4 separate regions of the Homo sapiens genome follow, and regions 1, 2 and 4 are each linked to region 3. Evidence: fine-mapped expression QTL. A gene starts in region 3. Each other region holds a variant in brackets. All regions are shown on one strand. Distances are from middle to middle.

Evidence for each region. PIP is the estimated chance that this variant, and not a neighbour inherited with it, causes the effect.
Region 1: its variant is fine-mapped to the expression of PANX2 in whole blood (INTERVAL, PIP above 0.99).
Region 2: its variant is fine-mapped to the expression of PANX2 in testis (GTEx, PIP above 0.99).
Region 4: its variant is fine-mapped to the expression of PANX2 in whole blood (TOPMed, PIP 0.98).

The regions. Positions count from the first base shown.
Region 1 is chr22:50,094,845-50,102,844 of GRCh38, forward strand. MOV10L1 (Mov10 like RNA helicase 1) reads left to right here. Exons shown (of 27, transcript NM_018995.3): 3 at 4,599-4,758. Among named protein-coding and RNA genes, the nearest start is that of MOV10L1, 8.8 kb to the left of the region's middle. The variant C/T (reference allele first, on the strand shown) is at 4,628.
Region 2 is chr22:50,128,711-50,136,710 of GRCh38, forward strand. MOV10L1 (Mov10 like RNA helicase 1) reads left to right here. Exons shown (of 27, transcript NM_018995.3): 14 at 5,297-5,355; 15 at 5,820-5,920. Among named protein-coding and RNA genes, the nearest start is that of PANX2, 38 kb to the right of the region's middle. The variant A/G (reference allele first, on the strand shown) is at 3,713.
Region 3 is chr22:50,166,440-50,174,439 of GRCh38, forward strand. It overlaps PANX2 (pannexin 2), which reads left to right and starts at 4,292. Exons shown (of 3, transcript NM_052839.4): 1 at 4,292-4,517. The coding sequence starts at 4,292. RefSeq lists a silencer at 3,466-3,525 and an enhancer at 5,125-5,817.
Region 4 is chr22:50,210,759-50,218,758 of GRCh38, forward strand. It overlaps SELENOO (selenoprotein O), which reads left to right. Exons shown (of 9, transcript NM_031454.2): 5 at 1-153; 6 at 4,959-5,109; 7 at 5,933-6,118; 8 at 6,214-6,370; 9 at 6,447-6,858. The coding sequence ends at 6,611. It overlaps TUBGCP6 (tubulin gamma complex component 6), which reads right to left. Exons shown (of 25, transcript NM_020461.4): 21 at 7,945-8,000; 22 at 7,730-7,862; 23 at 7,431-7,644; 24 at 7,160-7,359; 25 at 6,936-7,069. The coding sequence ends at 6,978. Among named protein-coding and RNA genes, the nearest start is that of SELENOO-AS1, 4.6 kb to the left of the region's middle. The variant C/A (reference allele first, on the strand shown) is at 3,125.

The sequences.
Region 1 (8,000 bases), 72 kb before region 3:
CAATAAAATAATTCAAAGTCTAGAATTCCATCATTCAATATGGTAGCCACCACTCATGTGCAGCAGTTTCGATTTATTAAAACTAAATGCAACTTACAGCCAGGCGCGGTGGCATAAACCTGGAGTCCCAGCACTCGGGAGGCTGAGGCGGGAGTTCGAGACCAGCCTGGGCACATAGAGACCCTGTCTCTTAAAAATAAATAAATAAAAGTGTTTCCTCAGTTTCCCTGGCCACATTTCAAGTGCTAACTGAAGCCTAGTGACTACCAAATTGGGCAGCACACATAGAGAACATTTCTGTCAGCTCTGGCTTAGAGACTGTGAATGCAAAGTAGAAGAGCCTCCCTCCACGTTCCCCACCTGCACTTTCATGCTGCAGACCTGATGCTCTTCTGGGTTTCTGTTTCTACCTTATCTGGTAGATAGTTGAGTCACTTAAACAATATGCTTGTATCTTTTATTAATTCACCAATGTTAGTATTTATGGACTTCCATCATCAGAGATGTACAACTGGCTCATTCACACTACCCTCTTTTCCTCTCCCAATTATTTAATTATATTTTTTCCTCCAAAGATTTCCTTTTGAACTTGAAATTATACGATAGTCCTCATGTTTTTGTGTGTATTTAAAGGAGTACTCTGGGTTCAGAATCTTTGAAAGAGGATCTGGAACCCAGAACCTGTAGAGATGATGTTTACCTCATTCTCTGAGCTGTGGTCGTGTACTCACACGCGGCCTTCCAAAGCAGGTTCTCATACCAAATTCCCGTTGATTTTAAGATACACCATTAATTTGATAATGAAAATTTAAAATGGAAACGTAGGTTGTGAGACTCATTCTGATCTCAGAAATGTGACAATGTGGAAAAACTGGCCCCTGGGTGTCCAGCAAATCCCAGCCCTCTTGGTGGTCAGCTGCCCTTCACTTGTTCCATCTTGTAAGGAATGCAGGACCTTTTTTGTTATGGTGAAGAGGGTTCATCTCTACTCACAATCTTGCTTTTATAAATTAGTAATGGATTTTTCAAGTACTTTTCAGTATCTTCCAAATGATCCCATAGTTTCTGTCCCTTTGCTATTAATATGGTGGAAAATACAGTTTCTGTGTTGTGAGCCGTTCTCACTTGATGGGAATGATCCCCATTTGGTATAAACCTGAATGTACTTCTGGATTTATTTTTTATTTAGATATTTTTCTTGTGGTAAAATATGCGTAATATACCATTTTAACCATATTGAAATGTACGGTTCAGTGGCATTAAGCACGTTCACATTGTTGCGCAGCCATCACCACAATCTGTCTTCAGCACTTTTTCAGCATCCCAGTAGACACTCTGTACCCATTAAACAGTTATTCAGTGTTCTACTTTATGTCTCTATGAATTTGCCCATTCTAAATACCTCATATAAGCGGAATCATGTGTCTGGCTATTTGACTTCTGTTTTCAAGATTTGCCCATGTAGCATGTATCAAAAGTTAATTCCTTTTTTATGGCTGAATATTCCATTGTGTGAATAAATCACATTTTGTTTCTCCATTCATCTGTTGATGGACACTTGGGTTGTTTCTACTTTTTGGTTGTTGTGAATTGTGCTGCCATGAACAAGTCTGTCTGAGTCCTTGTTCAGTTCTTTTGGGGCTACGCCTAGGAAGAGAATTGCTGGGCTGTATGGTAAGTCTAGGTTTAACTTTGTGAGGAACCAGATGTTTTCCACAGCAGCTGCACCGTTATATGTTCCCACCAACAGTGCATGAGGCTGCCACTTTTTCTGTATCCTTGCCAACACTTGCTATTTTCTTTTTCTTTTTTTTTCTTTTGACAGTAGCTATTCCTCGTAGTTGTGAGGTAGTATCTCACTGTGGTTTTGATTTGCATTTCCCTAATGATTTGTGAGGGCATCTTTTCATGTGCTTATTGGCCATCTATATATCTTCTTTGGAGAAATATCTACTCAAATCCTTTGCCCGTTTTGAAATTAGGTTGTTTTCTTGTAGTAGGAATTCTTTATATATTCTGGATATTAATCTCTCATCACATACATGATTTGCAAATACTTTCTCTCATTTTATCAATTGTCTTTTCACTTTCTTCATGGTATCCTTTGATGCACAGATGTTTTAAATTTTGGTGGAAGTCTAATTTGTCTCTTTTATTGCATGTACTTCTGATGTCACACTCAAGATACCATTGACTAATCCAAGATTATGAAGATTTTTTTCTACCAAGAGTTTTATAGTTTTTGCTTTTAAATTAAAGTCTTTGATTCATTAAAAAAAATTTTTTGAGACAGGATCTCACTTTGTTGCCCAGGCTGGAGTGCAGCAGCACAGTCACAGCTCACTGCAGCCTCAACCTCCCAGGCTGAAGTGATCCTTCCACCTTAGCCACCTGAGCAGCTGGGACTACAGGTGTGTGCTGCCTCACCCAATTTTTGTATTTTTTGTAGAGATGGGGCCTCTCTATGTTGCCCAGGCTGGTCTCGAACTCCTGGGCTCAAGTGATCCGCCCATCCCACGCCTTTCCAAATGCTGAGATTATAGGGGTAAGCCACCACGCCTGGCCTCTTTAATCCATTTTGAGTTAATTTTTGTGTTTGGTGTAAAACGAGAGTCTAACTTTATTATTTTGCCCATGGTTATTTTCCCAGCACTATTTTTTTTTGAGACTGCACAATTGCAGTTTATTGAATGGTCCTTGTCAAAAATCAATTGACTGCACATGCAAGGGTTTATTTCTGGGTCTCTTTACTATTCCATTGGTTTATATTTCTGTCCTTACACTGGTGCCACACTAGTTTGATGACTGTAACTTTGTAGGAAGTTTTGAAATCAGGAGGTATGAAACCTTCAATTTTGTTACTCCTTTTCAAGACCATTTTGCCTATTCATGGTCCCTTGAGATTCCATTAGAATTTTAGATGAGTTTTTCTATTTATATAAAAATAGACCCATAGGACTTTGATAGGGATTGCGTTGCATTTGTTGGGTTTTTTTGTTGTTTGTTTGAGACAGAGTCTTGCTCTGTCACCCAGGATGGAGTGCAATGATGTGATATTGACTCATTGCAACCTCCGCCTCCCTGGTTCAAGCAATTCTCATGCCTCAGCCTCCCAAGTAGCTGGGACTGCAGGTGCTTGCCACTACACCCAGCTAATTTTTTTTGTATTTTTAGTAGAGATGGGGTTTCACCATGTTGACCAGGCTGGTCTTGAACTCCTGACCTCAAGTGATCCACCTGCCTCAACCTCCCAAAGTGCTGGAATTACAGGCATGAGCTACCACACCCAACCTGAATTTGTGTAATAGATCACTTTGGGTAGTATTGTCATCTTAATAATTAAGTCTAAGATTGTCATCTTAATAATAATTAAGTATTAAGATTAACATCTTAATAATAATTATTAAGATTAACATCTTAATAATCACATAATCACTTTGAGTAGTATTATCATCTTAATAATTAAGTCTTAAGATTGTCATTTTAATAATATTAGGTTTTCCAATTCATGAACGCGGTTGTCTTGCTGTTTATTGAGGTATTTAATTCATTCATTAGTGTCATTTTACGTGTCTTCCATCTCCTTAGTTAGGTTACTAAGTGTTCTGAGGAATTAACCTATTAACCTAACAGTGCTGTTATAAATGGAATTGTTTTCCCTTTCTTTGGATCATTTTTCTTGATTTCCTTTTTGGATTTTTCATTGCAAATGTATGGAAATCTGATTTTTGTATGTTGACTTTGTGTCCTGTGCTGGATTCATTTATTAGCTCTAACCATTTTTTGTTTCATTTACGTGTGTGGAATCTTTAGAGTTTTCCACAGATGAGATCCTACCATCTGTGAATAAAGATAATTGAAATTTGAAAGTCTTGAAGTAAGCATGGGCATCCTTGCCTGGTTCCTGATCTTAGGGGAAAGCTTTCGGCCTTTCACCATTGAGTGTGGTGTTTGTTGTGAGATTTTTGTTTATGGCCTTTCTCGTGTTGAAGAGATTTCCTGCGATTCCTAGTTTATTGAGTGTTTGCATCATAAAAAGTGTTGATTTTGTCAAATGCTTTTTGTGCATCAGTTGAGATCATCGTGATTTTTTCCCTCATCTTATCAATGTAATATGTTGACTGATTTTCATATGTTGAAACACTTTTGCATTCTGGGATAAACCCCACTTAGTCATGGGGTATAATCCTTTTAATATGCTGCTGCATTTGGTTTGATAATATTTCATTGAGGATTTTTGCATCAGTGTTCATAAGGGATTGCTATAGACTCAATGTTGGTGTCCCCCAAAATACGTATGTTGAAATCCTGACCCCAGTGGAATCTTATTAGGAGGCTTTGGTGGGTGACTGGGTCACAAGGGCAGAGCCCTTATGAAACATACCCCAGAGAACCCCTTTGCCCTTTCTGCCATGTGAGGACACAGCAGGAAGACACCGACGGTATACCAGGAAGAAGGCCCTCACCAGACCCGGAATCTGCCAGGGCCTTGATCTTGGACTTGCAGCCCTAATGGTCTCAGACAGGCATGCCAGCCTGTAGTTTGCTTTTCTTGTAGTTCTCGTATTATGGTTTAGAGCGGTGTGTTTGTTTTACAGGTAGAAGCTGTCTCTGATAAGTGGGAAGA[C/T]GACAGCAGAAACCATGGGAGTCCCTCAGACTGCGGCCCCCGAGTGTTGATTGGCTGTGTGACTTCCCTGGTGGAGGGCGCAGGCTGTATCAGTCAGACCACCTACTTCTCTCTGGAGAGTGTGTGCGAAGGTATGCTCAGGGGTCTGTGTTCCACATTGAAAATTAGGTTTTGTCTTTTAAAGAATTGTTATGGACCAGGCACGGTGGCTCATGCCTATAATCCCAGCACTTTGTCAGGCTGAGACAGGAGGATCGCTTGAGCCCAGGAGTTGGAGGCTGCAGTGAGCTATGATCCAGCCACTACACTCCAGCCTGGGTGACAGAACACAACCCTGTGTCTATATTTGTGATGGCTACACACAACATTGAAGGGATCAGTTTTGGGCATGCTTTGTTTGTTGAGAGGGTTTCGGGATTAGAGTAGCTTCTCCAGGTGCTGGCTTCACACAGAGGCTCTTGGATATTGAGTGGACTATGGGAGAGGGCACCAGGTCACTGTTTTGTTTTTTTTGTTTTTGTTTTTGTTTTTGTTTTTCGAGATGGAGTCTCACTCTGTTGCCCAGGCTGGAGTGCAGTGGTATGATCTCAGCTCACTGCAACCTCTGCTTCCTGGGTTTGATTGATTCTCCTGCCTCAGCCTCCTGAGTAGCTGGGATTACAGGTGTGCACCACCATGCCCAGCTAATTTTTTGTATTTTTAGTAAAGATGGGGTTTCATCAGGTTGGCCGGGCTGGTCTCGAACTCTTGACCTTAGGTGATCCACCTGCCTCGGCCTCCTAAAGTGCTGGGATTACAGGCATGAGCCACCACACCCAGCCAGGTCACTGTTTAAACTTGTGCTTTTATGTGTTTTGTGTTCATTTGTTAAATGCAGTCAGTAATTTCTGGGTAGTTGTTGCTTCCATATAATTATAGTGTTATGATCTAAGTTAGTGTTACTGGCATGCTGAGGTACTATTTAAAGTACTTTAGATGTTTTAAAATAGGGCTTGGGGATGACATTGTACGTTTCCTAAAGTATATATCCTTTTTCTTTCTTTCTTTCTTTCTTTTTTTTGAGATGGAGTCTCACCCTGTCGCCCAGGCTGGAGTGCAGTGGCACGATCTCAGCTTACTGCAACCTCCGCCTCCTGGGTTCAGGCGATTCTCCTGCCTCAGCCTCCTGAGACTACAGGTGCCCACCACCACAGCAGGCTAACTTTTTGTGTCTTTAGTAGAGACAGGGTTTCACCATGTTGGCCAGTCTGGTCTTGAACTCCTGACCTTGTGATCTGCCCGCCTTGGCCTCCCAAAGTGCTGGGATTACAGGCGTGAGCCACCACTCCCGGCTTTATATATCCATTTTTTATTGCATTTGTTTTTGGCTGATCAAAGGATTTGTTTTTATACCTAAAGAAAGAATATGTCGATGTCATTGACTGAGCTGAACTCAGCAGCGGTTTACTCTACTCCTGCTGCCTATGGTGGTGAAGACGGAGCTGGACTCCATACTCAGGTCTGTTTCTTCTTTCCCAGGAGAAACAGACCTGTGCATACATTGTGGTAGGGCAGGAATTGGAAAAGCTGCCTGGGGAAGTGGCTTCTGAGCTGAAGTCCATTTGCACAGCCCACAGCACTGCCTGTTGGAAGATGAATAGAAGTTTTCTGCTTTAAGCTGGGGGGTGGGAGGTCTGGGGGGTAGCTCTGCCCACCAGGAAGCTGCTGTCTCACTCTTTTTCACCTTGGTTTTTATGTGTATGTGTGTTTTTGTTTTTGTTTTGAGACGGAATCTTCCTCTGTTTCCCAGGCTGGAGTACAGTAGCACAATCTTGGCTTACTTCAAGCTCCGCCTTCCAGGTTCATGCCATTCTCCTGCCTCAGCCTCCTGAATAGCTGGGACTACAGGTGCCCGCCACCACACCTGGCTAATTTTTTGTATTTTTAGTAGAGACGGGGTTTCAATGTGTTAGCCAGGATGGTCTCGATCTCCTGACCTTGTGATCCACCTGCCAAAGTGCTGGGATTACAGGCATGAGCCACTGCGCCTGACCTTTTGTGGGTTTTGTTTTTTTTTTCTTTGTTTGAGACAGAGTTTCGCTCTTGTTGCCCAGGCTCGAGTGCAGTGGTGGCTCACTGTAACCTCCACCTCCTGGATTCAAGCAATTCTCTTGCCTCAGCTTCCTGAGTAGCTGGGACTACAGCTGTGTGCCACCACACCTGGCTAATTTTTGTATTTTTAGTAGACACGGGGTTTCGCCATGTTGGTCAGGCTGGTCTCGAACTCTTGACCTCAGGTGATTCACCCACCTCGGCCTCCCAAAGTGCTGGGATTATAGGCATGAACCACTGTGCCCAGCCTTGACCTTGGTTGTTAACCCTGGGATCCCCAAGATGAAATTGATAGGTGTCTATTGGGATTTTAGAATCTCTGTGCTGCCAGAGAAACGCTCAGTTCTGGGGAAAGGCGCCTATAATCATGGAGGCCCCTCAACCCTGCTAACAGGAAGCCCCTCTCAGGGGTGTCGCCAGGAAATGGCTCAAGAGGAAGAAAACCAGAAATGTTTGATGTTGCAGATGTTGATGGGGCAGAGAAGAGAAGGTGTCCCCTGAGTAATAAAGATGGGCAGGGATCCGGAGCCCAGGCCAAGGGATTTCCCAGTATAAAAAACCTCAAGTGAGGCAAAGTCAGGTCCTCTTGAGGCTGAGAGAGTCACACTCAGACATGTCAGAATTGCTGTGAACACAATCACAAAACCTAAGGACCACAGCAAAAGAACTTTTTTGAAAGAGAAAATACAATGTGCAAAAAGGCTGATACAGAGTATCTAATGAGATCAGCAAACCGGTCAAGCACCGTCTCCTTCAAAGCTCCTCCCCACAGGATGGTCGTACCACGTAGCTGAAAGCAGACATAGCTGTACATGAGCAAAAGGTGCGGCTGTGTCCTCATAAAACTTTATTTATAACTTCTGACCTAAAGGTGGCAAAAGGAAGAATTATGCTAAATTTTTCATTTGCTTGTGGGAGAGTCAGAAGATGCTGTTTCCTTCTTGACGTTAATTCAACAAATTATTAGAGTGCTTGCTGTGCTAGACACTGCTTCAGAGAATTCGCATTTTGAGAGAACAGACAGTAAGCAAGTGAACAAAGAAAATAATTAGCATCAGGCCTGGCACAGTGGCTCACACCTGTCATCCCAGCACTTTGGGAGGCTGAGGCGGGCGGATCACCTGAGGTTGGGAGTTGGAGACCAGCCTGACCAACATGGAGAAACCCCGTCTCTACTAAAAATACAAAATTAGCTGGGCGTGGTGGTGCATGCCTGTAATCCCAGCTACTCTGGAGGCTAAGGCAGGAGAATCGCTTGAACCTGGGAGGCAGAGGTTGCGGT
Region 2 (8,000 bases), 38 kb before region 3:
ATTTTTGTATTTTTAGTAGAGGCAGTGTTTCACCATATTGGCCAGTCTGGTCTTGAACTCCTGACCTTGTGATACGCTTGCCTTGGCCTCCCAAAGTGCTGGGATTACAGGCGTGAGTCACCACGCCCGGCCATCTTTTTTTTTTTTTAATAGAGATGGGGTCCCAGGCTGGTCATAAACTCCTAGGCTCAAGCGATCCTCCTGCGTCAGCCTCCCAAAGTTTTGGGAGTATAGGTATGAGGCACCATGCCCAGTTAATTTGTCTCTTTATCTTTAATTGGACAGTGTTCTCTTGAGTATGTCTGTTGACATCTAAGTAGTGACGTAGGAGCCCCCACCATGCCTGTGGTTGACGTGTATAGGCCTTGTGGATGGAAGTGGGCTCCTACAGCATTTTTGCATACCCCGTGTTTCTAGCTTTATTATCAACTATTTTTTGAGATATAAAGGTGCATACATTTGCATGTGTATTCTTTCCCAGATCTCATGTGCACCGGATCTTTGGTTCATGCCTCACTGTCACCGTCAGCTACCAGCTCCTTACTTTTATTTGTTTTCTTGTCGGATGAGGGGTGCTGTGACCTGGCACCCAGCTGGCTTTTTCTTCCTCCACAAAACCATTAACTAGTCATGCACAAAAAATGTATTCTTCAGTTTTAATTCTTTTGAACTTTAGAAAAGGAGTAACTTGCTGTATTTGGTTCCTAGGAGTCGAGATTTTCACTAAACATTGTGTTCCTGAGATGTCTCCGTGTTGTTGTAACTGCTGTTCATTGGTTTGCGGTTGTGTGAATACCCGCTGTTTTTCTGTTGATGGACATCTTCATTGTTTGCTGTTACGATTGTTTGCTGCTGTTCCTAGAGCTGCTGTGTATGTAGGGATGGGATTGCTGGGTTTGGGGTTTTTCCAGCTTTACAAGTGGTTGCATCAGTGACTTTCAGTATCCATGTGTATAACAGCCTGCTGATCGGTGCCCTTTCTGTAATCTGATTTTGTTCGACTTCCTAATTGGTGCCAGTCTGGTAGGTGTGTAATGCATCTCATGATGGTCTTGATTTACTTTTCTCTGACTTATTTACAAGGCTGAGAATCTTCTTGTTCGTGGGCCGTAAAATGTTCCTCTTCCATGAAATGCTTGCTTGCGTCTTTTGCCCTCTTTTTTATTGAGTAATTTATCCAATTTTCATTGTTGTGGGAGTCCTTTCTGTATTCCTTATGATAAACTATTCTTAGGTACATATCTTCTCCAGATTTCTTCCTTATCTTTTAGCTTTTTAAAAAGTATCTTTTGAGGCTGGGTGTGATGTAATCCCTAACACTTTGGGAGGCCAAGGCAGGTGGATCTCTTGAGGTCAGGAGTTCGAGACCAGCCTGGCCAACATGGGGAAACACTGTCTCTACTAAAAATACAAAACTTAGTGGGCATGATGGCACATGCCTGCAGTCCCAGCTACTTGGGAGGCTGAGGCAGGAGAATTGCTTGAACCCAGGAGGCGGAGGTTGCGGTGAGCTGAGATCATACTACTGCACTCCAGCCTGAGACAGAGCGAGACTCTGTCTCAAAAAATAAATAAATAAATAAATTTTATATATATATGTCTTTTTATTAACAGAAGGTGCTAGTTTTAATATAGTCAAATTTATCAAATTTTTTTTAATATTAGTGCTTTTTATGTCTGTCTGAGAAATCGGCAGTATTTGGGCTACAGCCAGATTGGAATGTATTGAGAATGAATGAATGGACTACGGGGGAATGGAGAAATGTCGTTGATTCCTTTTTAAGGCATTTGCCGATGAAAGCAGGGAGGGCAGGATGGAGAGAGAGCGAGAGAAATTGGTGACCAAAGAGATACAGGAGGACCAGGAGGGGGGTACTTTTTGTTTGCTGTGCAAGATGAGAGACCCCAGCATGTGAGTGCCATGAGAAGACCCAGGAATGGGAAGGAAGGGGCAGCTGTGTTGGATGATGACGTGTGAGGGTTGGCTGGGACCACAGGGAGCAGCAGCGCTGGTAGAAGGCACACAGCCTCCATCATGGCAGCTAGAGAGACTGCAGCCGACGTCCAGGCCTGGACTCCTTGACCTGCTTTGACTCTGGAACAGAGCTGATTCTTGTAGTGTGAAGGGATATCTCGTTGTGGATTTAATTTGTATTTTTCTAATGACTAATGATGCTGAACATCTTTTCTTTTTTCTTTTTTTTGAGACGGAGTCTCGTTCTGTTACCCAGGCTGGAGTGCAGTGGCACGATCTCGGCTCACTGCAAGCTCTGCCTTCCAGGTTCACACCATTCTCCTGCCTCAGTCTCCCGAGTAGCTGGGACTACAGGTGCCCACCACCACGCCCGGCTAATTTTTTTTTTTTTTTTTTTGTATTTTTAGTGAGACGGGGTTTCACTGTGTTAGCCAGAATGGTCTCAATCTCCTGACCTTGTGATCTGCCCACCTTGGCCTCCCAAAGTGCTGGGATTACAGGTGTGGGCCACCACACCCGGCCACTGAACATCTTTTTATGTGCTTTTTTGCCATTTGTACAAAATACTTGTTGAAGTCCTTCCTCAAGTCTTTGGGCCCATTTTAAAAAATTGTTTTCTCATGATTGAGTTTGCAGAGATGTTTGTATAGTTTCAGTACAGTGCTTTATCAGATACGTGTCTGTGCAAATATTTCCTCAGACTACAGCTTGTATTTTCATTGTTTTTATAGTGCCTTTTGAAATGCAGAAATTATTAATTTTGGTGAAGTCCAGTTTATGAATGTTTTCTTTCACAGATCTTTTAATGATGCATCTCAGAAATCTGTAACTAATTTGGATCTCAACGATTTTATCCTGTTTAGAAACTTGGCAGCTTTATCCTGTACATTTAGGATTATGATCTATCTCATTAAGCTTTGCAAATTGTTTGTGGGGTATGAATGGAAATTGGAGGGTGGAATGAACATCCAGTTGTCCAAGCATTATTTGATGAAAAAACTGCCCTTTCTCCAATGAATTACTATTGTACCTTTGTGAAAAAAAAAAAAAGAAAATCAGTTGACCAAATATTTGTTGATCTGTTTCTGAAGACTCTCTGTTGTGTTCCATTGTACACTTGTCTGTCTTGACACCAACATTACAGGGTCTTATTGTCTGTCTTAGTACACTCAGGCTGCATTAGCATAGCACCATAGATGGGGTGGCTTATAAACAACAGAAATGTATTTCTCATGCTCTGGAGGTCAGGAAGCCCAAGGTCAAGGCACCAGCAGGTTCAGTGTCCTGGTGAGACTGCTTCCTGGTTCGTAGGCGGCTGTCTTTTCCCTGTGTCCTCACGCAGCAGAAGGGATGGGAGAGCTCTCTGTGCTCCCTTGTGTAAGGGCACTAATTCCATTCATGAGGCCCCACCCTCATGACCTAATCACTTGCCAAAGGCCTCAACTCCTCATACCCAGTAACATCACATTGGGGATGAAGTTTCACCATACGAAGCTGGGGGGAACACAAACCTAGTGTATGATATGTGCCTTTATGATAAGTCTCAAAATCAGGTAGTATCAAGCCTCCAACTTTGTTCCTTTTCAAGGTTGTCTGGCTGTTCCAGGTCTTTCTTCTTACATGGATTTTAGGTCATGTCAGTCTCTACAGAAAGCCTGTTGGGATTTTGATTGGGATTACATTGAACCTATGGGTCGGTTTAAGGGAGAATTGGAGAATTGAAATCTTAATAATAAT[A/G]AGTCCTCCAGCCCTTGAAAAGGGTATGTCTCTCCATTTATTTGCATCTGTTTTCATTTCTTTTAGCAATATTTTATACTTTTCAGTGTATAGGTCTTATAGATCTTTTGTCAGTTATACCTATTTAAAATTTTTAAATGGCTGTTATAAACAGTAAATTTAACTTAAATTTCTAATTGCTTGTTTCTAGTATTTATAAAAAGCAATTGATTTTTGTATGTTTACCTTGTATCCTGCAAGTCTCCTAAACTGAATAGCTCCAGTAGCTTCTCCTAGAGTCTGTAGAATTTTCTACATATATAATCATTGATTCAAAGAATGACAGTTTTAGGTTGGGTGTGGTGGTTCACACCTGTAATCCCAGCACTGTGGGAGGCCAAGGCAGGCGGATCACCTGAGGTCAGGAGTTTGAGACCAGTCTAGCCCACATGGGGAAACCCCATCTCTACTAAAAATACAAATAATCAGCCGGGCGTGGTAGTGGTCACCTGTAATCCCAGCTACTTGGGAGGCTGAGGCAGGAGAATTGCTTGAACCCAGGAGGCGGAGGTTGCAGTGAGCCGAGATCACGCTACTCATTCCAGCCTGGGCGACAGAGCAAGCCTCCGTCTGAAAAAAAAAAAACCAAAGACAGTTTTACTTCTTCTTCTCTTATTTGGATGCTGTGTATTTGTTTTCCTTGCCTTCCTGCGCTGGTTGGAACTTGTGTGCCAGTGTGGAATAGAAGTGGTGGCAAGTGCTGCACTGGCTTTGTCCCTGGTCTTAGGGGCAGGGCTGTCAGTCCTGAGCGAGTTAGTACAGCGTGGGTGGTAGGTTCCGTAGTGGCCCTCTATCAGGTTGAGGAGATAGATTCTTATTTTAGTGAGTTTTTAATCAAGAATGGATATGGGGCCAAGTGTGGTGGCTTACACCTGTAATCCCAGCACTTTGAGAGGCTGAGGTGGGAGGATCACATGGGCCCAGGAATTTGAGGCTTCAGTGAGCTCTGACTGTGCCACTGCACTCCAGCCTAGGCAACAGAGCAGAGTCTCTAAAAAAAAAAAAAAAAAGAAAGAAAGAATGGGTGTGGGATTTTGTCCCATGCTTTTTTTTTTGGCTTCTTTGGTATTCTCTAGTGGTTTTTACAAAAATTTTTTTAGACAGAGTCTCACTCTGTCACCCAGGCTGGAGTGCAGTGGTGCCATCTCAGCTTACTGCAACCTCTGCCTCCCAGGTTCAAGTGATTCTCATGCCTCAGCCTCCTGAGTAGCTGGGATTACAGGCGTGCACCACCACTATGCCTGGCTAATTTTTGTATTTTTAGTAGAGGCAGGGTTTCATCATGTTGGCCAGGCTGGTCTCGAACTCCTGACCTCAGGTGATCCACCCACCTCGGCCTCCCAAAGTGCTGGGATTACACACGTGAGCCACCGCGCCCGTCCTCTCTAGTGTTTTTCTGTTCTCTATTTCATTGATTGTTGGATTGTTGCTGTGATTTTTTTATATTGACTTAAAGATTGTATCATAAAATTTTCATTACCTTATGCCAGCCTTAATATTTCTGAATGTAAGGTTAGTTATTTTATGTGGTTTTCTTTCCTGCAGGACCACAAGCAGACGGTGTCACTTTGCACTTGAACACGTCATCCACTTAGGTGTAAAAGGTATTACTTTTATAGAATGATAGTGTTACATCTTCACAGAGTATTTTTATAGGCTTCATGTAAAATTTTGTGTAAAATAGTCTCTTCAGTCATAATATTAGAAGTAAAACTTTTGTTATATTCATGTTTTTAATTTTCTATCAAGTTTTAGTGTTTTCTTACTATTTCAACTTAGTGAATAACTAATAATAGCATGCTTAAATAACCGAAAATAAATTTATCTTGCTCGCTTTTCCCTTCATAAATGTAATTTATGAATTTTTACAGATGGGCAAATAAAGGGCTTTGTTGTGAAGAATATGCAGTACTAATAATGCTATAATTTAGAAACAGTATAACAGGCAGGTTAAGAAAGGAAGGGAATAGAATATTAATTGCTTTAGGGTCAGCCATAAACAACCTCTATTAATATTTTTTTAGCTTTTTAGTTATACCCGTGCTCTTACCATTTTTTGTTTTAAAAGTGTTGTTTCCAGAAGAAATTATTTTACAGTCTCCACAAGTGACGGGAAATTGGAACCATGCACAAGACACCAAAAGCAGTGGACAGTCCACCAGCAAAAAGGTAGTGCTCAGCAATGTGGCTTTCTCTACACAGGGGATGGCTCAGCGACGTGGCTGTCTTTACATAGGGGGTGGCTCAGCGGCGTGACTGTCTCTACACAGGGGATGGCTCAGCGATGTAACTGTCTACACAGGGGGTGGGCGTTTCCTTCTCGGAGTATTAGCGCTTAGTTGACTGGAGTATTAGAGCAGTGTGGTTCACAAATAACTCAAAATTGCAGTTAAAATAAAGTGAACTAAAATATTCAAAAATAGATTTAGTGTAAAGTTTATATGCAAGGGCTAAGATGCAGGGCTAAGATGGCTACAATATATTAAATAGGGGAAGCAAAGTACAGATGTTTATATGACCTTAGAGTTGGGTTTTTTCTTTTTCTTTTTTCTTTTCTTTCTTTTTTTTTTGAGACAGAGTCTCGCTCTGTCACCCAGGCTGGAGTGCAGTGGTGCAATCTTGGCTCACTGCAACCTCTGCCTCCCAGATTCAAGTGATTCTCCTGTCTCAGTCTCCAGAGTAGCTAGGACTACAGGCATGTGCCATCACACCCAGCTAATTTTTGTATTTTTAGTAGAAACAGGGTTTCACCATATTGGTCAGGCTGGTCTCGATCTCCTGATCTTGTGATCCACCCTCCTCGGCCTCCCAAAGTGCTGGAATTACAGGCGTGAGCCACCACACCCGGCCTTAGAGTTTTATTTTTAAATTATATGGTTTATGTGTACACTTAGGTACATTTATGTGATTGTGTATGCATGGAAAATGTCTGGAAGGATACACACCCCGCAAATTGTTAACATTTGCAAACTTTGTGAATGTTGCAAAGATATTTTATAAAAACTTCTAGGCCGGTCGCAGTGGCTCACGCCTGTAATCCCAGCACTTTGGGAGGCCGAGGCGGGCAGATCATGAGATCAGGAGTTCAAGACCAGCCTGGCCAAGATGGTGAAACCCCATCTCTACTAAAAATCCAAAAATTAGCCGGGCATGATGGTGTACACCTGTAATCCCAGCTACTCAGGAGGCTGAGGCAGGAGAATCACTTGAACCCAGGAGGCAGAGGTTGCAGTGAGCCGAGATCACGCCACTGCACTCCAGCCTGGGCAATAGAGCGAGACTCCATCTCAAAAAAAAAAAAAAAAAGCTTCTATAATCCAGTCACTCCATAAATAGTAATATAGTGCCTATTACATGCCAGGTATTGTCCTGGGCTCTCAGTATATTTTTGTGAATACAATAGAAGTGGTTTTATTTATCTTCATGTTTCTAGTAACAAGAAAATCATCTGTGTCATGGTGGAGCTTACAACTTATTTTGTGCTATTCAAATTTGGTTTTATGAGCATGTTTTCAATGTATAACATGAATTTTTAAATTATATCTAATACTCAAAAATGCTCACCATTTTATAGTTCCTCCCCCAAAATGCAAAAATGATAGGTTTAGAATGCCTATACAATCATGGAAAATACGACAAATGAAGCAGCAAGAGGTTATCCTTGAAAGTCATCTGTGGCATATTTCATAGTTGATCTCTTTTTTGTTCTGCAAATAGAAAAGAGTCTTCCTTGGACAGTGCTTTTCTTCTCCGTCATCACCTCATTACTGGTTCATTCTACTGCCTGATTCTCGGGGAGAGTCTGTGGTGCAGATGGCATGTGAGATCAGGGAGGTGTTACTATTTAGGTGGGCACATTCCTAATTGACTGTAGGTTTTAAAACCTGAAACTTTATCTTCTTATGGATTAACTAGATTGAAAATAAACTCAAGAATATTTCATATGTCAACCAAGATAGAATTTCAGGGACCAGATTTATCTTCCTTCCTGAAACAATAAAAAATCAGACAAACTATATGGAACAACAATTTCAGACATTAACATCAGCTATCATAGGACAGGGATTCCTGAGAGAGGAAACAAATGAGGTGACCTCATGGTTTTCCCAACTCACAGCCTTCCGAGAGTGTCTAGGCCAGAGAGCACCAAGAGGGAGCCCAGGCGGAGTGCAGTGACCTGAGTACAGAGACAGCATTTGGAAGGGTGGGGAGGACAAGGGGGATAAAGCTGACAGAGTAGAGTGCTGGG
Region 3 (8,000 bases):
CAGCGTGGCCCACATCTCCAGTCCCAGCGTGGCTCAAGCCTGCAATCCCAGCGTGGCCCACGTCTCCAGTCCCAGCGTGGCCCACGTCTCCAATCCCAGCGTGGCCCACGTCTCCAATCCCAGCGTGGCCCACGTCTCCAATCCCAGCGTGGCTCAAGCCTGCAATCCCAGCGTGGCTCACACCTGCAATCCCAGCGTGGCTCACGCCTGCAATCCCAGCGTGGCTCACGCCTGCAATCCCAGCGTGGCTCACGCCTGCAATCCCAGCATGGCTCATGCCTGCAGTCCCAGCGTGGCTCACACCTGTAATCCCATGCCTGCAATCCCAGCACTGTGGGAGGCCAAGGCTGGGTTGGGTGGGGGTGGGGGGATCAGGAGTTTGAGACCATCCTGGGCAATATAGTGAGACCCCGTTTCTACAGATAAAAAAATTTTAAGGCCAGGTGCAGTGGCTTATGCCTGTAATCCCAACACTTTGGGAGGCTGAGGCAGGAGGATCACTTGAGCCCAGGAATTCGAGACCAACCTAGGCAACATGGCGAAACCCCATCTCTCAAAAAAATTAGCCAGGTGTGGTGGTGCATGTCTGCAGTCCCAGCTACTCAGGAGGCTGAGGTGGGAGGATCCCTTGAGCCCAGGAGATGGAGGATGCAGTAAGCCAAGATCCCACCGCTGCACTCCAGGTTGGGCAACAGAGTGAGACCTTGTCTCAAAAGATAATAGTAAAAATTGCTGGGTGTGGTGGCTCATGCCTGTAATCCCAGCACTTTGGGAGGCTGAGGTGGGCAGATCATGAGGTCAGGAGATCGAGACCATCCTGGCTAACACGGTGAAACCCCGTCTCTACTAAAAACAAAATACAAAAAATTAGCTGGGCGTGGTGGCAGGTGCCTGTAGTCCCAGCTACTTGGGAGGCTGAGGCAGGAGAATTGTGTGAACCCGGGGGGTGGAGCTTGCAGTGAGCCGAGATCGCGCCACTGCACTCCAGCCTGGGCAACAGAGCAAGACTCTGTCTCAAAAAAATAATAATAATAGTAACAATTTTAAAAAGCTGGGCATGGTGGCGTGCATCTATAATGCCAGCTACTTGGGGGGTCAAGGTGGGGGGATTGCTTGAGCCCAGGAGTTCAGGGTTACAGTGAGCTCTGACCAGTGATGCAGTGCTCAGGGTTTGAAGAGAGCGTGCACACAAACCGCTAGAGATAAACTCAAAGCACCTGGAAGCTACACCCGCCCCCCCTTCCCCCCGAGAATGGCAGATACTAGAAGGTGGATAGGGCTGAGAGCTGGAAAGAAGACAGGGATGGTGAGAGCATGGACTGGCCGAGCACTTCTGGAAAGCATGGAGAGGCACCCATGCGAAAGCAGAAAGTGCATCTGGAAAACAAAGGCAGCCACCCAGCAGCCACACTCGGGTCGCTCGGAGGGGCTGGAACTCACTGCACTGGGTTATCTGGGAGTGACTGAGTTGTCGGGGAGGGGGGGTGACTTGGTTATGTGAGGGGTGGCTGGGTTCTCTGGGGTGATGGTTATCTGGGGGTGACTGGGTTATACGGGATGGGTTATCTGAGGGGTGCCTCGGTTATCTAGGAGATGACTGGTTTATCTGGTTACCTGAAGGGTGACTTGGTTATTTGGGGATGATGATTTTATCTGGGATGACTGAGTTATCTGGGGGTGACTGAGTTATCGGGTGAATAGGTTATGTGAGAGGTGACTGGGTTATTTGGGGTGACTGGTTTATCTGGCAGTGACTGGGTTATCTGGGGTGAATAGGTTATGTGAGGGGTGCCCGGGTTATTTGGGGTGATTGGTTTATCTGGCAGTGACTGGGTTATCTGGGGTGAATAGGTTATGTGAGGGGTGCCCGGGTTATTTGGGGTGATTGTTTATCTGGCAGTGACTGGGTTATCTGGGGTGAAAGGTTATGTGAGAGGTGACTGGGTTATTTGGGAGGTGACTGGTTTATCTGGCAGTGACTGGGTTATCTGGGTTGAATAGGTTATGTGAGAGGTGACTGGGTTATTTGGGAGGTGACTGGTTTATCTGGCAGTGACTGGGTTATCTGGGGTGAATAGGTTATGTGAGAGGTGACTGGGTTATTTGGGAGGTGACTGGTTTATCTGGCAGTGACTGAGTTATCGGGTGAATAGGTTATGTGAGAGGTGACCGGGTTATTTGGGAGGTGACTGGTTTATCTGGCAGTGACTGGGTTATCTGGGGTGAATAGATTATGTGAGGGGTGCCCGGGTTATTTGGGGTGATTGGTTTATCTGGCAGTGACTGGGTTATCTGGGGTGAATAGGTTATGTGAGGGGTGCCCGGGTTATTTGGGAGGTGACTGGTTTATCTGGCAGTGACTGGGTTATCTGGGGTGAATAGATTATGTGAGGGGTGCCTGGGTTATTTGGGGTGATTGGTTTATCTGGCAGTGACTGGGTTATCTGGGGTGAATAGGTTATGTGAGAGGTGACTGGGTTATTTGGGAGGTGACTGGTTTATCTGGCAGTGACTGGGTTATCTGGTAGGGGTGACTGTTATCGGGGGGTGAGTTGGTTTATCTGGGGTGCCTGGGTTGTCAGGGTGACTGGGTTATCTGCCAGGGCTGATTTATCTGGAGGTGCCTGGGTTATTTGGGGTGACTGGGTTTATCTGGGGTGACTGGGTGGTTGGGTGCTGGGATTGGATGTAGCTGAACTGCCTGCCTCAGGATGAAGTTTGCTGGAAGTCAGGGGCTGGCATCCCTCAGAAAACATGCAAGGATCTTTAAAAACGCAGACGGCGTGAAAGCTCAAAGCAGACACATCCCCTACGCAGCCCAGGGAGGCAGGGGGACCTCCTGGTTTGCTCACAGCAGTGGCCGGGCCTGTGAACACGGGCTCAAAATACATTTTTGGAATGAATTATTGAATGAACTTAAAACTCCAATCACACTAAATCTTTTATATGAAAGATCGTGCACGTTCGTCCTGGTATAGTGGGAAGGGGACCTGCACGAGGGAAAACGGCTGCCTCGAAGAGGCAGGGACCACGCGGGATGCGCCCGCGTCTGAAGCCAGACCCCCGGCTCCCCGAGGGAGAACAGGACGGAGGGCGGGGCTGTGGGGAGCGGAGGGAATGAAGGTCAGGGAGGCGGCGGGGACCCCCTGAGCTGGCACAGGCCCCGGGAACGTCTGTGGAACAGGGGACGGGATGGGGCGTGGGGGAAGGAGGTGCGGGCTGCAGGAGCGGGGGTGATGGGGTCACTCACGGCGGCGGGACTGGGGGTACTGGGTGGGGGGGTCGGGTGGGGCCGGGGCTGCAGTGGAGGGTGTGGGGCGGGGAGATGCCCTCATTGCCCGCGCACTGGCGCCCGAGCCCAGAGAAGAGAGCGCCGGCTTCCCCGCCAGTGGCCGCAGCACCCCAGGAGCGCGGGAACCTCCGGACCCACAGCGGGGCGCGGCCGGGGCAGGTGGGGGGCCCAGGCGAGGAAGCCCCCTCTGCGCCCTGGGCTGGGCGAAGGGCCCTGCGATGCGACGGGGGCAGCCCCAGCGCGCGCCCAGTCCTCACGTCGCCACCGAGCGGCGCCCCCGCCCCAGCCCGGAGCCCCGCAGGGCCGCCCCCACCCCTGCCCACCCTCCCGCGGGCCGGGGCAGCCCCCCGCCAGCCACCCCGCGTTCCCAGGAAGAGGGACCGGTCATTACTCATTCATGTCCTTTCATTTCATTTCAATATTTTCTGCAAAGTCATCGCCCGCGCCGCATCTGCGTGGCGGGGGGCGGGGTGGGGCGGAGCCACGCCGCGGAGTCGCCGCAGGTAAACAGCCCCCTCCCCGCGGCGGGAGCGGGGCCGCCGGCCCCAGGCAGGGACAGCAGCCGCCGCCCGCGCTCCGGGCCGGGATCCCGCCGCCGCCCCCGCCGGAGGCACGCGCCAGGGCGGGGGCCGGGCTGCGGCGGAGGCGGGCGGCTCCGGTGCCCCCCGCCGCCGCCCCGGCCCGGCCCGCCCGCCCCCTGACCCCGGGGGCGGCGGCGGAGCGCCCCCCAAACCCCGCTGCGGGCTCCGCGCCCGGCCAGCCCCGCACCCGCCGCGCGCCTCCGGCTACTCCCATCCCCCGGAGCCCCCCGCTCGGTCCCGGCGTCCCCTGCCACCCTCTCCCGCGGCCCGCGGCCCCGTCCCCGTCCCGCGCCCCCACGCTCCCCGATCCCCGCCCCCGCGCCGCGCGTCCCCTCCCGCCCGCGCCCCCCTCGCCGGGCCCCGCCCCGCGCCCCCCGCCCCGCCCGCGCCCCCCGCCGGGCCGCGCCCCCCGCCCCCCATGCACCACCTCCTGGAGCAGTCGGCGGACATGGCGACCGCGCTGCTGGCGGGAGAGAAGCTGCGGGAGCTGATCCTGCCGGGCGCGCAGGACGACAAGGCGGGCGCGCTGGCCGCGCTGCTTCTGCAGCTGAAGCTGGAGCTGCCGTTCGACCGGGTGGTCACCATCGGCACCGTGCTGGTGCCCATCCTGCTGGTCACCCTGGTCTTCACCAAGAACTTCGCAGGTGAGGCCGGCGGCCGGGGCGCGGGGCGCGGGCAGAGGGGGCGTCCGCAGGTGTCCGGGAGCTGGCGCTTCCCGCGTCCCCGGCGGCTCCGTCCAGCCGCGCCCACCGTGGCCTGGCTGCGTCCGCGGCGTCCCAGGCACCTTCCACAGCCGCCCCCATCCTAGCAGGTGTCGCTGGTCGCACAGACCCCTCGTCTCTATTTTATTGTTGTTCTTCCTTCCATTCGTCCGCCCATGGCCGCGGGTGGGACTAGGCCTGTCTGGACCCAGGGGTCCCAAATGTCATGAGACACGGGGTCTGGTTTGGAGAATGTCACAAGCAGCGCCTGAGGGGATGCAGGGTGGCCAGGTGGGGACCAGGAAAGGCCGGGATGGGTGTTGACAGCAGAGAGCTGATTACAGGGGCTGGTGGAGCTGCCGGGCAGGGTTCCCAGGCTGGACTTGGGTGGAAGGAGGGCAGAGAGAGTCTCTGAGAGGCCCAGGCCCTCCACCCCTCAGGCAGGGCGAGGCCTCTCCGGGTGCACTGGGGGCCTCCGAAGGTTTGAAGCAGGGGGGCTAGCATGGGGCAGGGCCACGTGTCAGAGCAGGGAGCCTGGAGCTCCTGCAGGGAGATGGGGGCTGGACCAGGGCAGGGACCCGCGCTGGTTAGATCAGGACCTGTGGGGGCACTTGAAGCCACCCAGGCGAGGCAGGAAGATGGACAGAGCAGCCAGCCTGCCTGTGAGCCTCTGCGGGGTGGGGTCCTGGTGCCTCTGCCCTCCCCAAGGAGTGGGGCGAGACAGGTGGAGCCGAGAACTTCCTCCCCTGGGGTCTGGGCCAAGGCAAGGGGGATCAGGGTCTCCTGGCCTGTGTGGCCCAGAGGTACTAGTCTGCAGCGGGGAGGGGTGTTGGGACCCTGGGGCCCTCTCTTCTGCAGCCTCCAAACCTCAGCAGACCCTGCCTCAGCACTGGCGCTTCCCAAATCTCCCAGATGCCTTGCCTTAAGGAGTCCCCGTGGCCTGGAGACACCAGGCCTGAGGGTGGACATTGGCCAGGCTGTCTGATCCCACCCAGGGGTGGAGGAGGCCTCTGCTGGTCTCCTCTTCGACACTGGAGGCCAGACCCCGGGGATTAGAGGACCCCTGGGGTGGGCACACAGCACACTCTGCAGAGCAGGGAGCCCAGGCGTGCGGTGGGGCCTTGGGGCAGGCCCAGCATGTCCAGACACCACGTGTGTTCTCTGTGTTTGTAGCAACCAAGTACCGCAAACTAGGCAGTTTCAAACAGCAGACATTTATCTCTCATGGTTCCGGAGGCCAAAAGTCCAAAATCGAGGTGTCGGCAGGGCCCTGCTCCCTCCCACAGCTCTAGGAAAGGGACATTCCAGCCTCTTCAGCCTCTGGTGCTGCCGGCAATCCTTGGGCGCCTTGGCTCGTGGCCGTGCCACCAGTCTCTGCCTCTGTCTTCTCATGGGCTTCTTCCCTCCCTGTCTGTGTCCAAATTTCCTTTTTTTTTGAGACAGAGTCTTGGTATGTCGCCCAGGCTGGAGTGCGGTGGTGCGATCTGCAACCTCCACCTCTCGGGCTCAGGTGTTCTTCCTGCCTCAGCCCCGAGCCCCCAGTAGCAGGGACCACAGGCATCCCACACCACACCCAGCTAATTTTTGTGCCATGTTCCCCAGGCTGGTCTCAAACTCCTGGGCTCAAGTGATCCTCCCATCTCAGCTTCCCAAAGTGCTGGGACTACAGGCGTGAGCCACTGTGCCCTTTTCTCTTCTTCACCACCCCCCCGCTTTTTTTATTTTTATTTTTTGAGACAAAGTCTCGCTCTGTCACCCAGGCTGGAGTGCAGTGGTGCGATGTCGGCTCACTGCGACCTTTGCCTCCCGGGTTCAAGCGATTCTCCTGCTTCAGCTTCCCAAGTAGCTGGGACTACAGGCACCCGCCACCACGCCTGGCTCATTTTTTTTTTTTTTTTTTTGAGACAGAGTCTCGCTCTGTCACCCAGGCTGGAGTATAGTGGCGCGATCTCTGCTCACTGCAAGCTTCGCCTCCTGGGTTCACACCATTCTCCTGCCTCAGCCTCCCAAGTAGCTGGGACTACAGGCGCCCGCCACCATGCCCGGCTAATTTTTTGTATTTTTAGTAGAGACGGGGTTTTGCCATGTTGGCCAGGATGGTCTCGATCTCCTGACCTCGTGATCCGCCCACCTTGGCCTCCCAAAGTGCTGGGATTACAGGCGTTGAGCCACCGTGCCTGACCCATTTTTTGTATTTTTAGTAGAGACGGGGTTTTGCCATGTTGGCCAGGCTGGTCTCGATCTCCTGATCTCAGGTGATCCGCCCGCCTCGGCCTCCCAAATTGCTGGGATTACAGGCATGAGCCACCGCACCCGGCCCAACTTTCTTCTTTAAAGCGGAAAGGAAGCGAGCGCTCTGCCCCCGAGCACCCTCCCAGGAGCCTATGGGCTGGTTCCTCTTTTTGGCTTCATCATCCTTGGAGGGCCGAGCGCAGCCCCTGATGCCGCAGGGCAGGGTTGGGCCTGAGGGCCCGTGTGGCCAGCTGCTGTCTCAGGATGCAGTACCCTCGAAGGTTGGGGGCCAAGTCCCAGGGTCTCCAAGGTGGGCTGGGGAAGGGTCTCGGCCCCCCTCAGCCTGCAGAGAGTGGAGAATGTAGCAGGTGCGCAGCCACCGCCAGGATTAGCTTCCTGTGGCTGCTGGAACAAACCTACAAGTCAGAAGCCAGATGCGAGTCTCATGGGGCTAAAACGAAGGTGTCAGCAGGGCTGGCTCCAAGGGGGAACCCACTTTCTGCCTTCTCCGGCCTCCAGAGGCCTCCACATTCCTGGCCTTGCAGCCCTTCCTGCGTCCTCAGAGCCGGCTGCGTGGCGTTCTCTCTCCCAGCCCCACTTCTGTCCTCACATCTCCTCCCTGACTCTGACCCTCTTAGAAGAACCCTGCAATTGCTGCCCACCAAGACCCCCAGCCTAGGCATGTCTGCAAAGTCCTCGTGAACCGGGAAACGTGACACCGCCACAGGCTCCGGGGTTGGGATGTGGCATCTTTGGGGGCCATGATTCTGCTCACTGCAGACCCCATGTGGAGGTCTGTAAGGCCAGGGGAGTCGGGGAAGGGCCAGGGCCTGGCCTCGGCTGAGGGCTTCCAGGATGTGGCAGTGGTCTGGGGTGACCAGACAGGGTTTGGCCAGCAGGCAGGAGGAGGCTGCGCAGAGCCAGGGGTGTCCTGGAGAGGTGTCCCCACTCCCCAGGTGGGAGGACAGGGGTGGAAAGGGCTGTTGGGAGGGACCCAGCTTCACCCTTGGGGGGCACCTTGGGGCCATGTGCAGGCCAGATCGCAGGGGTGGGCTGGAGATGAGCTTGGGGATGGCAGAACCGAAGAAGGGCAGGACTGGGGGAGGGCCGGGGGGGCTGGGCTTTAGCCTCGGGTCCTGGGGACGGCATTCTGAATATGGGAATATGGGCCGTGTTGGGGTGTATTCAGACACC
Region 4 (8,000 bases), 44 kb after region 3:
AGCTGGGGGAGGCCATCCTGGCCGAGGAGTTTGACGCCGAGTTCCAAAGGCACTACCTGCAGAAGATGCGCAGGAAGCTGGGCCTCGTGCAGGTGGAGCTGGAGGAAGACGGGGCGCTGGTGTCCAAGCTCCTGGAGACCATGCATCTGACCGGTGAGTGACCCAGCCGTGCCCACAGCAAGGCGCCTCCCGTGCTGTTGTGCTTAGAGATGGTTTACCTTCTGGCTTCCAGGTTCCAAGTGCACAGTCACTCCCTGGGCCCACCCCAGCCCTGGCACCCCCATTCTACTCTCTGTCTTTATGAATTTGGTGAATCTAGGACCTGCTGCGAGTGGAGTCATACGGTGCTTGTTCTGTAGTGACTGCTTATTTCACTTAGCATAAGGTCCTCAATGTTCACCCAGGTCCGTATCAGGATTTTATTCCATTTGAAGGCTGAGAAGCATCCCGTTGTGTGGACAGGCCGCAGTTTGCTTATCCACGACATACTGGCGTACGTGTTCCTCTTCTGGCTGTTGCGTACGGTGCACTGTGTGTTGTGTGCCGTGCTGCCATGAAAGCGAATGCAGAGATCTCTGACTCCCTGCTTTCAGTTCCGTGGGGTGTACAGGTGGTAGGATTGCTGGGTCGTGTGGGTGACTCACTGGGTTGCACTAGCTAGGACGTGTATGTTGAACAGAAGGAGCTGAGATGGGCATTCTTTTCTTGTTCCTGACCTTCGGGGAAAAGTGTTCAGTGTTTCACCCATTGAGTGTGATGTTAGCTGTGGGCTTTTACCATGCTGAAGTTTTCTTTCAGAATGCTTTTACCATGAAAAGCTATTGCATTTTATCAAATGCTTTTTCCTGCAATGAAGATGGTCATGTGGTTTTATTATTTCATTCATATCTCCTTGCATTCTGGGGATAAATTTTACTTGGTCCTTTTAATATGCTATATGATTATTATTTTTAATATTTTTTGAGACGGAGTTTCACTCTTGTTGCCCAGGCTGGAGTGCAGTGGCACGATCTTGGCTCACTGCAACCTCCACCTCCTGGGTTCAAGTGATTCTCCTGCCTCAGTCTCTCAAGTAGCTGGGATTACAGGCACCCGCCACCACACCCGGCTAATTTTGTATTTTTAGTAGAGACAGGGTTTCGCCGTGTTGGTCAGGCTGGTCTTGAACTCCCGACCTCAGGTGATCTGCCCACCTCAGCCGCCCAAAGTACTGGGATTATAGGCGTGAGCCACCGCACCCAGCCATATGCTGTATAATTATTTTAATATGCTGAATGTTGCGAGTATTTTGAGGATTTTTGCATCTGTATGCGTAAGGGATACTAGCTTAGAGTTCTGCTTTTTCTTTAGTGTCTGTTTGGCTTTGATGTCAAGGTGGTGCTGGCCTCAGAGTGAGTTAGGAGGTATGCGCACATCTTCCATTTTTTTCCTTCAAAGTTTGAGAAGGATTGCCATTTGTTCGTAAGAGTATTTGGTAGAAATCACCAGTGAAGCCATCTGGTCCTGGGCTTTTCTTTGTTGGAAAAATTTTGATTACTGATCAGTCTCCTTGCTTGCCTTACCTCAATTTAGATTTTCTTTTCTTCTTGAGTCAGTTTTGGTAATTTATGTTTCCAGGAATTTTCTGTGTCAGGTAGTTTGTCCATGTCTTGTAGGTAATTTTGGCATATAATTGTTCGTAGCAGTTTTTTACAATTTCATTGTGGTAGGAACACAACATGGATCTATCCTCTTAAATTGTGGAGGGCACCGCACATCACAGCTGACGCAGGAGCAGTGCTGTACAGCCGAGCCCTGGAGCTTGTTCACATCCGCCACCCAAACCCTGTGTGAGCCGGTTACCAGCTCCCCATTCCCCTCCCTGCAGCCCCTGGTAGCAACCACTCCGCTCCGAGTCTGTGAACCTGACTGCTCTAAACCCTTCATGTAAGTGGAGTTACACAGCGTGTGCCTGTTTCTTCAGTCTGTTGTCTCCCTCTAATCTTCGTGTAAGTGGAGTTACGCAGCGTGCGCCTGTTTCTTCAGTCTGTTGTCTCCCTCTAATCTTCGTTTAAGTGGAGTTACGCAGCGTGTGCCTGTTTCTTCAGTCTATTGTCTCCCTCTAATCTTCGTGTAAGTGGAGTTACGCAGCGTGTGCCTGTTTCTTCAGTCTATTGTCTCCCTCTAATCTTGGCTCTTCTTTCTCCAGTTCCTTAGGCGTGAGTTGAGGTAACTGATTGGAGATCTTCTTCAGTGTAGCCATTTACACTGTGCATGTCTTTCTGGTCACTGCTTTTGCTGTGTCCATCAATTTTGGTATGTTGTGGGTTTTTTTGGTTTTTAGACGGAGTCTTACTCTGTCGCCCAAGCTGGAGTGCAGTGGCATGATCTTGGCTCACTGCAACCTCCGCCTCCCAGGCTCAAGTGGTTCTCCTCCTTCAGACTCCCAAGTAGCTGGGACTACTGGCATGCTCCACCACACCTAGCTAATTTTTGTACTGTTAGGAGAGATGGGGCTTCACCATGTTGGCCAGGCTGGTCTCCAACACCTGATCGCAAGTGATCTGCCTCAGCCTCCCAAAGTGCTGGGATTCTGGGGATGAGCCGCCGCGCCCAGCCAGTGTGTTGTGTTTTTAAGTGATTTCTAGCTTCATTCCATTGTGACTAGAGATGTCAGCCTTTTGAGGTTTATTACAACTTGTTTTGTGGCTTATCTTGGAGAACTTTCTGTGTGCCCTGGAGAAGACGGTGTGCTCTCTTTTGCTGGGCAGAGCGTCCTGTACCCGTGTGCCCTGGAGAAGACGGTGTGCTCTCTTCTGCTGGGTGGAGGGTTCCGTGTATGTGCCTGTTTGGTCTTGTTGGTTTAGGCTGTTGTTCAGGTCTTCCATTTCTCATTGATCTTCTGTCTGGATGGTTTTTTTGTTTTTTGAGACGGAGTCTTGCTCTGTCACCCAGGCTGGAGTGCAGTGGCGCGATCTCAGCTCACTGCAAGCTCCACCTCCCAGGTTCACGGCATTTTCCTGCCTCAGCCTCCCGAGTAGCTGGGACTACAGGCGCCTGCCACCACGCCCGGGTAATTTTTTTGTATTTTTAGTAGAGACGGGGTTTCACCGTGTTAGCCAGGATGGTCTTGATCGCCTGACCT[C/A]GTGATCCACCTGCCTCGGCCTCCCAAAGTGCTGGGATTACAGGCATGAGCCACCGCTCCCAACCCTAGATGGTCTATCCATTATTAAGTGGTGTGTTTAAGTCTCCAACTCTTACTATAGATAGAACTGTTTGTTGTCTGTCCCTTCCATTCTGCCAACGTTTACATTTTTGGGCTTTCTTATTGGGTGCATGTTTATAATTTTTACATTTTTATTGATGAATTGACTCTTTTATCCATATATAATGCTGTCTCTTGTAACGACTTTTTGTTGAGGGTGGATGTGTCTCACTTTGTTGCCCAGGCTGGAGTGCAGTGGCACAGCTGCGGCTCACTGCAGCCTCCACTTCTTGTGCTCTAGTTATCCTCCTGCCTCAGCCTACCAAGTAGCTGGGATTACAGGGGTGAGCACCTTTCCCGGCCCTTCTGACAATTTTTTATTTAAAATCTTCTCTGGCCGGGCATGGTGGCTCATGCCTGTAATCCCAACACTTTGGGAGGCCGAGGCAGGCAGATCACCTGAGGTCAAGAGTTCGAGACCAGTTTGGCCAACATGGTGAAACTCCATCTCTACTAAAAATACAAAGATTAGCCAGGCATGGTGGTGGGTGCCTGTAATCTCAGCTACTCAGGAGACTGAGGCAGGAGAGGCGGAGGTTGCAGTGAGCTGAGATCACGCCACTGCACTCCAGCCTAGGCAACAAGAGCAAGACTCCATCTCAAAAAACAAAAATTAGCCAGGCATGGTGGCGGATGCCTGTAATCCCAGCTACTCGGGAGGCTGAGGTAGGAGAATTGCTGGAACCCAGGAGGCGGAGGTTGCAGTGAGCCGAGATTGCGCCACTGCACTCCAGCCCCGGCAACAGAGCAAGACTCCGTCTCAAAAAATAGAAAACTTATCTGCTGTGAGTTTAAGAGTCGCCTCAGCTCTCTTTAGGTTACTCTTTGCCTGGGTTTCTTCATCCTTTCACTTCCAGCCTGTTCGTGTCTTTGAACGTCTTGCAGATCGTGTGGTGACAACATGGAAATCGTCTTTTCACCCACTTTGCCAATCTGCCTTTTGTTGGAGCGATCAGTCCATTCGCTTTCAAAGCAGTTACTGAGGGGGAGCTTCTGCCATGTTTCTGGTCGCTCACGTTCTCCCTTGCTACCTTTGTGTGTAGTCGACTTTTTTGCAGTACGTTGCTTTGACTCCCTTCTCATTTTGTTTTTAAGACAGTCTTAGGGTCACTGTGGTTTCAGACAGTGTTTTCCAGAGTCAGGGGGAGGATCGCAGTGTCTGTCACAAGTTGGGCCTTTTGCAGGCGGGTTACAGCAGCTTCTCAACACTCGCTAGCTCCCAAAGCAGGCAGTTGTGACTGTGAGGATGTGAGGGCCGGGCAGCAGCCTCTGCCTTCTCAGTATTAGGCCACTTCACAGGTGACTTGGAGGGTGAGCAAATGGCAGCTGCCTGGGCGGTGGATGGGTGGAGGCTGAGGAGTGGGGTGTGGAGGGCTCAGGAGTCCCAGGACCAATGCTGAGCGGGGCTTGTGTGGCACCTGTGCTGGGGGCAGCATTTGGGTCCGTGTGGGTCTCTGTGGCATGCGTGCCAGGTGTGGGTCCGTGTGGCACCTGTGCTGGGGGAGGGTGTGGGTCTGTATGGCACTGTGCCAGGTGGAGGGTGTGGGTCAGGGAGCGTGTGGATCCGTGCTGGCGGTGGGGGGCGGTGGTGGAGCATGTGGGTGGGTCCATGCAGCACCTGTGCCAGGGGGGTGGGGGGGGGGGGGTCTGTGTGGCACCAGGACAGGGACCCTGGGCCTTCTGCTTCCAGCTCCCTGAGCAGCCTGTGTTCCAGGTGCCGACTTCACAAACACCTTCTACTTGCTGAGCTCCTTCCCAGTGGAGCTAGAGTCGCCAGGCCTGGCGGAATTCCTGGCCAGGCTGATGGAGCAGTGTGCCTCCCTGGAGGAGCTGAGGCTGGCCTTCCGGCCCCAGATGGATCCCCGGTGGGTACTCAGTTCCTACTTCTTTGGATTTGTTTCCAGAAAAGGAAGCATAATCAGAAACAGAGGCTGGGGGAGAAGCTAGAGACAGAGCTGGCTGGGGCCCAGGTGGCTGCTCCGCTCCCAGGGACAGATTCAGTCAGGGCTTCAGGGCATCTCTGCGATGCTGGGGCCGGTTGGTCACAGAGTAGAGAGTGGCGAGGCTGACACAGGTGTGGGGGCAGACAGTGGTCTCTGCTGTGGGTGGGCTTCAGAGAAAGCCTCTGGGTTTCTAGGGAGAATGGGCTCCCAGAGGTCAAGCTTTCCCACACCATCTTCCAAAGGGAAGGGCTGCCCTGTCTGAAGAGTCCCGCCCACGTGCAGGATGAGACGTGGAAAATATTGTTGCTTTAACTTAAAAAACAAGACCAGTGGGGTTGGCTGGGAGCACCGGCCAGCAGGCCCTGCTGAGCATAAACCCCCTCCACTGGAGAAGGCGTGGCCCCTGCCCACCTGGACCCTTCTGGAAATGAGGGAAGTGCTAACAGCAGTGCCCATCCCACAAGCATTAAACTCGGGAGGTGGAGACTCTCCAGCAGAAAGCTGGGCAGCAGAGTGGTCCTGCCCCTCGGCCCACAAAGGGCCTTGGCCGAGCATGGGCATGCCTGGTGTGTGCCCACTGGGGTCCATCCCTGCCAGTGGGGTTCCAGGGACCTCGGGGACCGGGCTGCTTGGGCCCTTGGACTCTAGGTGAGCCGTGAGAGCGGGCTGGGGCAGGCGGAGCAGCTGCCTGCAGGGCAGGGACACGGTCAGGGGCTACCTCCCAGACACCCTGGCCTCTCCACAGGCAGCTATCCATGATGCTGATGCTGGCGCAGTCAAACCCGCAGCTGTTCGCGCTTATGGGCACCCGGGCAGGCATCGCCAGGGAGCTGGAGCGTGTGGAGCAGCAGTCTCGGCTGGAGCAGCTGAGTGCGGCAGAGCTGCAGAGCAGGAACCAGGGCCACTGGGCTGACTGGCTACAGGCGTACAGGTGAGCCCTGCGTCCATGGTCACCGGGGGACGGCGGGTCGCGTGCTGGAAAAAGTCCAGCCCGGCTGTGACTCCAGAGCCCGGATGTCATTCCAGAGCCCGGCTGGACAAGGACCTGGAAGGCGCTGGGGACGCTGCCGCCTGGCAGGCTGAGCACGTGCGCGTGATGCACGCCAACAACCCGAAGTACGTGCTGAGGAACTACATCGCGCAGAATGCCATCGAGGCTGCCGAGCGCGGGGACTTCTCAGAGGCAAGCACACGCCTGTCCCTGTGGTCCCTGGGAGGGGGGTCGGCCCCAGACCCCTCTCACCCTCCTGATCCTCCAGGTGCGGCGGGTGCTGAAACTACTGGAGACCCCTTACCACTGCGAGGCGGGGGCCGCCACAGACGCCGAGGCCACGGAAGCCGACGGGGCGGACGGCAGGCAGCGCTCCTACAGCAGTAAGCCCCCGCTCTGGGCAGCAGAACTGTGCGTGACATGATCTTCGTAACGGCCTCGGCACGCTCCACACCCCTGGAGTCTCCCGAGGCCCCCATGTGCTGCTGAGTGGCCAAGATGATGCCAGGCTGCCCTATACACTGGGGGATTCTGCCCTGGCCCATGCACACCCGTCTTTCCATGATGGCAGAGACATCCAGTCAGGACCTGACCCGTCTCTGTCTGAGGCCGGCTCAGCAGTGCAGCCTGGTCCCTGGGGGCTGGACCCAGGCTCCTAAATAAACCAGCAACTCCCTCGAGTCTGTCTCTGTGGTCATTGTTCCCCCACCCTGCCCTGTCCTCAGCCCCCACCCAGGAGAGAGAGCTGCAGACAGGGTCCGAGAACACCTTTATTGTGCACGTCCCCCGCAGAGCAGCCTCAGGCGTCCTGGTAGTAGTTGTTGAAGTTGATGCGCAGCAGAAAGTCCTCCAGGTGGGGCTGGTAGCCGCGGTTCACCAGCTTGGTCACCACTGGGGACCAGCGAGCAGCTCAGGCTTTTGCCCACAGTGTGAGCCCCGCCCTGGCCCCCCCGCAGCCCTCCCAGCCAGGGTGGGCCTCACCTTTGAAGAGAAAGTGGGAGTAGTACTTGAAGGTGTTGTAGGACTGCTGCATGAGTGCAAAGTTGGGGTGCTCTGCACCCCGCGGGCCCCCAGGGGGCCCCCAGGCCTGGGAGATGAGCTGGCTGCGGAACTTGAGCACGAGGCTGAAGATGCTGTGGATGACGTTCATGACGGGCGCCGCCTTCTCCGTGAGCAGGCCCCTGGGGGGAAGCAGTGCTGCTGGGTGGGCTGAGCCGTGACCACAGGGACGCAGCCGCTGCCCAGGCCTCACCTGAAGACGGCCTTGTGCAGGTACTCTGCGTGCGCACGCTGGATCTCCTCCAGGTCGCCCACGGTGGCCAACCTGGCCCTGAACTCGCACCAGGTGACGTGCAGGATCTGGTTGGCGATGTAGCCCTGGATGACCTTCACGAAATGCTGCATCTCGTGCTTGAACAGCTGCAGCTGACGGAACTGCACAGAGCCGGCCATGTGGCTCAGCAGGGCTGGCGGAGGGCAGAAGGCAGAGGGCAGAGGTGAGCGCAGCCTCCAGCCAGGGGTGCGGGGCGCCGGGCTCCAGCGGGGCCTCACCTGTGCGCTTGAGGTGGAAGCAGACGTCCTTGAGCGCCCACATCATGAGCTTCAGCTGCAGCAGGAAGGAGAAGACGCCGCTGTACTTGCTCACGCAGCCCTCGGTGATGACAATGTTGAGAGGCCAGTCCACCTGCCAGGAGGCGTGGCTCAGCAGGCATCCCACAGGCAGGCAGGCCCCTGTCCCATCCCCCGCGGCCAGGGCTGCTGCTGACCTTGTACCTGAGCTCCAGGCAGCTCAGCACATCCGGGGCGTTGGGGGCAAACACCT